Linked DNA regions of Homo sapiens. The protein of the gene in region 2 interacts with the protein of the main gene of each other region in a pairwise test. Each region holds a gene or a part of one and is shown on either strand. Other genes may lie near its edges.

Evidence for each region.
Region 1: the proteins of NEK7 (region 2) and RAB3C interact in binary tests that used the Homo sapiens proteins (3 or more experiments, as listed by UniProt).

What each region holds. Positions count from the first base shown.
Region 1 is NC_000005.10:58,589,405-58,593,237, reverse strand, and holds part of RAB3C (ras-related protein Rab-3C), read right to left. Parts: intron 1-3,833.
Region 2 is NC_000001.11:198,261,268-198,265,100, reverse strand, and holds part of NEK7 (serine/threonine-protein kinase Nek7), read right to left. Parts: intron 2,527-3,833; coding exon 2,464-2,526; intron 977-2,463; coding exon 866-976; intron 1-865. UniProt on the Homo sapiens protein: Protein kinase which plays an important role in mitotic cell cycle progression. Required for microtubule nucleation activity of the centrosome, robust mitotic spindle formation and cytokinesis.

The DNA.
Region 1 (3,833 bases), on a different chromosome or scaffold from region 2:
AAAGGAAAAGTACAATAACTAAAATGAACAATTCCTGGACAGGCTTAACAAAAGACTGAAGATGACACAAGAAAAAGTCATTGAACTTAAAATAAATCAATAGAAATCATACAATCTGACAAATATAAAGGAAAAATTTTTTAATGAACCGAGCCTCAGTTAGTTGTGGGATGATATTAGAATTCTAACATACATGTAATTGGCAATATCAAAAGGAAAAAGAAGAGAATAATTGGATGAAAAAATACTTAAAGATGTAATGGCTAAATATATTTCCAATTAGGGAAAAATATAAACTTATGTATCTGAGAAGCTTATCCAATTCGCCAATCTGACTAAATATAAATAAAACGACATCTAGGCACATTATAGTCAAATTGTTTAAACTCAAAGTTAAACAGAAAATCTTGAAAACAGTCAGATGAAAAAAATGACATTACATACAAGGGCACAATAATATGAAGAACAGCTGAACTCACATTATAAAGGAGATCAGCAGACAACGAAACAGCATATTTAAATTGCTGAAAAAATCAACAAGAAATTTTATATGCAGGCAAAACTCTTATTCAAAAATGAAGGCAAAATTTTAAAAAACCATTATCAGATGAACAAAAACTAAGAGAATGAATTGCCAGCAGATCTATCCTACAGGAAATGCTAATCGAGGTTGTTCAGGCTGAAGAAAAATGATACCAGATAGAAACTATGTACCAGAAATGGTACATAGGTGAAAGACAAACACAAATAAATATACATTTTTTCTTCTCTTAATTAAAAAAATACAGATTGCTATTGAAAGCTAAAATTATAAAACTTTATTGGAGATTTATAACAAATATAGATGTAACATATGACAACAATTTCACAAAGAATGAGGTAAATGAAATTATATCATAGCAAAATTACTATATTTTATGAGAAGTAATATAATATTAACTCTAAGTAGACTGTATAATAAGTTAAATATGCATATTGTAATCCGTAGGATAAACACCAAAAATACACAAAGATACACAGTTGAAAAGCCAACATAGAGGGCTGGGTGCAGTGGCTCACGCCTGTAATCCCAGCACTTTAGGAGGCCGACGCAGGTGGATCACCTGAGGTCAGGAGTTCGAGATGGGTGTGGCCAACATGGTGAAACCCTGTCTCTACTAAAAATACAAAAATTAGCTGGGTGTGGTTGCACATGCCTGTAATTTCAGCTACTCAGAAAGCTGAGGCAGGAGAATCGCTTGAACCCGGGAGGCAGAGGTTGCAGTGAGCCGAGATCGTGCCACTGCACTCCAGCCTGCGCAACAAGTGCAAAACTCCATCTCGAAAAAAAAAAAAAAAATAGAAAAAGAAAAGAAAAGCCAATACAGGAATTGAAATACCTAAAAATATGTAATTAAGCAAAAAAGAATATAAAAACGAAACAGAGAAAGAAAAAGAAACAGAATAAATTAAAAAAACAAAATGGTAGACTTAAATTCAATCATACTGATAATTGTAATATATGAAAATGGACCAAGAAAAAGGCAGTGATTTTTCAAACTGGAAAAAAATGAAAAGCCCAACTCTATACTGACCACAAGATTCACACTTTAAATATAGAGACACATATAAGTTGAAAATAAATAAAATTATATATATATATATATATATACTATGAAAATACTATTAAGAAGGCAAGAGTGTCTGCATTCTCTATTAATATCAGACAATATAGACTTTAAGACAAGGAGTATTGCTGGAGATAAAGTGGGACATTTCATAATATAAAAGGAAAAATTACTCAGGCAGACACATTTAAAATTATGTGTGTATACCTAATAACAGAGTATCAAAATATATGAAAAAACTCAAAAGAACTAAAAGGATAAGTAGGCAAATTGACAATAATAGCTGGAGATTTGAAAACCTCTTTAACAGTAATTGATAGTATAAATAGACCAAAAATCGATAAGGATATTAAAGGTCTTAGCAACACCACACAATGCCATAACCCTAATGATATTTAGAGACTACTACACTGCACAACTACAGCACACACAAGCACACATGGAATGTTCATAAAGTCAGTCCACATGCTGAACTAAAAACAAGTCAACAATTTTAGAAAATTAAAATCTTAAAGAATATCTTCCATAGTAGCAATAGAATTTAACTAGTCATCAGTATCAATAAAATATCTGTAAAAATACCCAAGTATTTGGAAATTAAATATACTTTTAAACCCATGGATTAAACAAAAACATCATAAGTGCCAAATAGTTTGAAATAAAATGTAATGTAAATACTACATTCAGAAATTTGTGCTTGCCAGCTTAAGCAGTACTTAGAGGGAAATTTATGATTTCTAGTGCTTATATTTATTAGCAGAAAAGAAATATTTAAAATCAGTGACCTGACAGGCACAGTGGCTCACACCTGTAATCCCAGCACTTTGGGAGGCTGAAGCAGGTGGATCACTTGAGGCCAGGAGTTCAAGACCAGCCTGGCCAACATGGTGAAACCCTATGTCTCTACGAAAAATGCAAAAATTAGCTGGGTGTGGTGGTGGGCGCCTGTGTTCCCAGCTACTCAGGAGGCTGAGGCAGGAGAATCGCTTGAACCCAGGAGGTAGAGATTGCAATGAGCTGAGATCCAGCCACTGCACTCCAGCCTGGGCAACAGAGTGAGACTCTGCCTTCAAAATAAATAAATAAATAAATAAATAAGTGAACCAAATTTATACCTTAAGAATCTAAATAAAGAAAAGCTTCTACTAAGTAAGTATAAGAAACACAAATATAGTTTTTAAAACAACAGCTAAAATCAATAAAATACAAACTAAATAAAATTAACAAAGGTAAAAGTTGACATTAATACTGATATAAACATTTAGTAAGACTGGCATGAGAGAGACGGAGAAACCTCAGATGATCAGTATTAGGAAAGAAAGGGGATATCACTACAGATCCTAGAGATATTTAAAAGGTATTAAAAATGTTTTTAACAACTTTGTGTTAATAAATTGGAAAAATGAAGTGAAAAACACAATTTACCAAAACTGACTCACAATGAAATAGAAAAATTTTTATATGCATATTTAGTTTTCGATTGCAGCTATAATGGATATTTAAAACCACACCCACTTATTGTTTTCTGAGCCAGAAATCTCAGCTAGGTCCTCTGCTCACTTTGCTCAGGTCCACCCAGCTAAAATCAATGTGTTGGCTGGACTGGCCTTTGATCTGGACAGTCTAGGAAAGATTCCACTTCCAAACTCATTCAGATTGTCAGCATAATCCAGTTGCTGGTGGTTGTAGGACTGAGGTCCCTGCTTCCTTGACACACAGCCTTCTTCATCTTCACCCCAACAATTCTTTTCATGTTTTGAAACTGACTTCTGCCACAACACTCTAAATTCAATGAGAGAAAGTTCTCTACTTTTAAGAGGTATTGTAATTAGATTGGACCAACCTGATAATGCAGGTTAATCTCCCTATTTGAAAGTTTATAATATTAATTATACCTGCGGAGTCCATTCTGTTACAAAATGTAACCTATTCACACGTTACAGGGTTAGGCCATGGAGAATTTTGGGAGGGATGCTATTCTGCCTAATACAATATACTAAAGGGAGATACATAGATAGATAATAGAGATATTAGTATATCAATGAAATCTTTAAAAATTAAAACTCTTATTTAAAATTTTCAGAAAGAAAACTCCAGGCTCCGCTGGCTTCATGGTGAACTCTAGTAGACATTTAACAAACCAAACTATGCTAATCTTATGCAACAAAATTATTCAGAAAACTGAGGGGCAAAGAGTACTTCTCAGCTTGTTTTATAAGCATAATT
Region 2 (3,833 bases):
ATAAGCTAGAAATAGGCTGGGTCTCTAAAATACTCTTGATAGAGCAGAGCTACCATACTAGCCCCAGACTTTTATGTGACAGAGAAATAATAACAATAACAATAATAATAGCAGCAGCAGATACATTTACATAGCCTTACAATGTGTGAGGCATTCTTCTAAGCTCTTAATAAATACTAATTAATTCAATCATTACAACAATCCTATAAAGTAGGTTCTATTATTACTGTGTTTTTTAGAAAATGTGACACAGAGAAGTAACTGGCCCAAGGACAAACAGTTTTTAAGCTACTATTATTTAAGGGTTTCTATTAATTGCAGCTGAACTTAAACCCAATTAATATGCCCTTAGAAAAGAAGGTTAAACAACTTAATTATATTAATTATGAATTAATATGCCCTTAGAAAAGAAGGTTAAACAACTTTTATGTGGGGTTGATATCCAAGGTCTGACTGCAAATCCCACTTTCTTTGATGGATTCCCCCCCAAGAAACAGGTCAAGCTGCTCTAGAGTCTCTTTCTACCTCCTTTTACTCATGTCCAGAGACACAGGATCAAGCATGGTCTGCTCAGAGAATCAAACAGCAAAACTTTAACTCAACTTACAGAAGACAAGTATCTTGGCCTCTTTCCAAGTTGGTTTTGGGGTGTTTAGATATTTAAGCTGATCAGTGTAAACATCACCAAGTAAACCAGTTTCAGAATTATGATCACTAACCATCTACTATTTGTTACATATCTATCAGATAAGCTTTGCATTGAGGTCTTTAGTTTAAAATATCTAATATCCCTATGTGTTTAACAGACAATTCTATTAGAAAAAAAAACAAAACAAAACATTAAGACAATTTTTTCAAAACTTACCTTGATCATTCTGGATAGGTCGCCAGCATCTGCTAGTTCCAAAACTATGTTTAGTTCATTATCTTCAATGAATGATGCATAATATTTTATTACATTTGGATGGTTGAGTTGCTGAGAAAATAAAACAGGCATCAGAAAGTTTTCTTACTGTAAATATCCAAGAGTCACTTATAGTTTTGTACTTAAGAACAAACTTCACCGTATTTTTTAAATTACAGAAATCTTAACATGACAGTATACTTTTCTTTAGTGAATTGTGAAACAAATATTACAATTATTAAAAGTAAAACTAGGTATAAATTAATTTATCTTAATATTCTTTATTAGAAAGAATATATTTTACGTTTAAATCTTAATTTAAAAGTACTGCTATGCCCAATAAGCATATCAACAGATGCAAGAAGTAAATGATAGAATTAGGTCGCCAACTGCTAAAAATTACATCCTCAAAATGAGAACTTTCATTTAGGAACACTCAATGATAAATAAAGTATCCCTTTTTACTCCTACTTGGAAGTTATGGTTGGTCCTAGAATAACTCCAGCTAGTAGACAAAACACAGCTGGTACCTACTATACTATATCTAACTATTGCTTTTATATCAAATAACATACAGGACTTATTCATGTGAGCCAATTCATAAAATCATCCCTAAGAAAAATTTTACCTTGTAGAAATATACGTATCAGTCCCTACTCATTTGCAATCCTTTTGTTCAATCTTTAAACATATTAATACAAGATGAATTGTTTCTCTGAGAAATTATGCAGAAAGTATGGGTGACTTTCTTCTTTCTACTTAAAGTTTTCGCTGCAAATTTTCTATGATGACATGCTATTTCCACAGTAAAAGTTTACATATATTTAAGCCAGCTACTTCATGTGCCAAGAAATAACTACAACTAACAGAATAGTCAGAAAACATTGTTTTGACCTTACTTTCTTCCTTTTTGCATAAATCTGGTTCATTTTAGGCACTAACACAAACGGATGGCATAAAAAAAGAGCGAAGTCTTAACTAAAAGTTAAAAATACAACATAGGCCGCAGTATTTCTCAAAAGAAACTTCACTATAAAAGAAGCAGTGCAGAAATAACTGAAATCTCAGTCATATTCTTAGTAGATGAGAAACTAAAAAGCTAATTCCTGGCATACTCTTTACATGCACTCTGTCTAAGTCTGGAAAAAGTATTGAAACATTAGAAAATGCATGTGAACCATTTTGATTAGTCCACATTCTCAATATAATACATGTTGAGATAATGCTAATTTGCATTTATATTACTTAACCTTTAGAATATGTCTTGTTGGGGTGGTCAAGAAAAAAAAATTCTTCAATGTTTTATGCCCATTTTATCTATTTCCTACTTTGAAATGAGAAAAAAAAGCTGGTCCTACAAATGTTCTGATTATGTTATTTAACAATAAATCCAAAAAATAACTACATTCTTCAGTATACTGAAATTTAACCTTATATAATATTACTTGAAATCAGTGTAGCATAAGTCTTAAAAACCTTTTTGTGTTTAAGTGTGATATTTTAGTAAATCACTTTTATCACCATGTTATGTTCAAAAGAGTCAACAGTTCATTAATTACCTTAAGAAGATCTATTTCTTTGATGCAATCAGCACGTGCTTTGGCATCCATTAAATCAAATATCTAAAAACAGAACCCAGAATTACTTAATAAAATAATAACCTATGGTTCAAGCTATTGTGTAAATTCATTTTAATACTCTACATGTAATTATTTGTACACTAAGGAATTTTCTTTCTGATTAGCTTTTCTTTATTAAGGAGTTCTGTAGGTATCTTATGTTACCAACATTGCTTACATTTTCAGCAGTCAGTATTTAAAAAATGGATAAAGAGAACAGGTAGATACCCCTTAACACTCAGGTCTTAAGTTCCAATGAACAAAATTAAAGTTGTGATTATTAAGATGATAAAGTAATAGCTAATATATGTTGAGCAATTAATATATGCTAAATGTACTGCACAACCTTATGAGGATGATAATAGTAGTATTCCCATTTTACAGATGAAGAAGAGAAGCTTTAGAAAGCTAAGGAGAATGACAAAAGGTCACACAGCTAATCAACAGAGCAAGCAGAATTCATTCTCAGAGTTATCCATCTAGAACCCAAGCACTGAACCATTAATCTGTTCCATCAAATCATGTCTAAAAGGTCTGATGCATGCATTCTTGACAAGGGTGATATCATTCCAAGGGGGTGAAAATTGGTTCTTTGTGGAGAAGGGTAACAAAATTTTACTCTATTAAGTATAAAGTATAGATACACATACAGTACTACACATAAACAGATATACTGTATTTGTGGAATTAAAATTTCATGGGTAGAGGTAATTAGGAAGAAATGTCTAAACAGGCAGCTTGGGGGGAGGATAATGAAGAAAAGGTTGAAAAATATTAACCTACTGTTAAAAACATAAAAATAAAAAATACAATCAAAAAGATATTTCATGTGTCTCTGAAAACACAAATCTCTCAAGGTTCTAAGTGTGTGGAAAATAACATTTAAAAAAGCAATATCTTAGAGACTGCAAAAAAAATCTAAGTCAGTACTGCAAGCTGATTAAAACCCTAGTTACATAACAAATAAAAAAATTAATGACATTTTTAGTAATCAGCTTGATCAAGTCTTCCTGATTCAGCCAGCTAACATTCCAGGAAAAGAAGGTACAATGTCAAAGGAGTGGCAGAATCCAAGTCTTTTTAATTAAAGAAGTAGTTATTAGACACTACCAGAGAGGGCTGGCCTCTTTACACATGATGCTTTAAACTTCATTGCAATCTTATAAGACAGGTAGTATTGGCCACAATAACAAGATGAGGATTGAGGCTCAAAAAGATTAAATAATATGCTTATGATCATAAAACTAGTAAAGGACAGAATCAGGACTTGAAGCCAGGTTGTTCTAGCTCCATAGTCAGTGTTTTCTCAA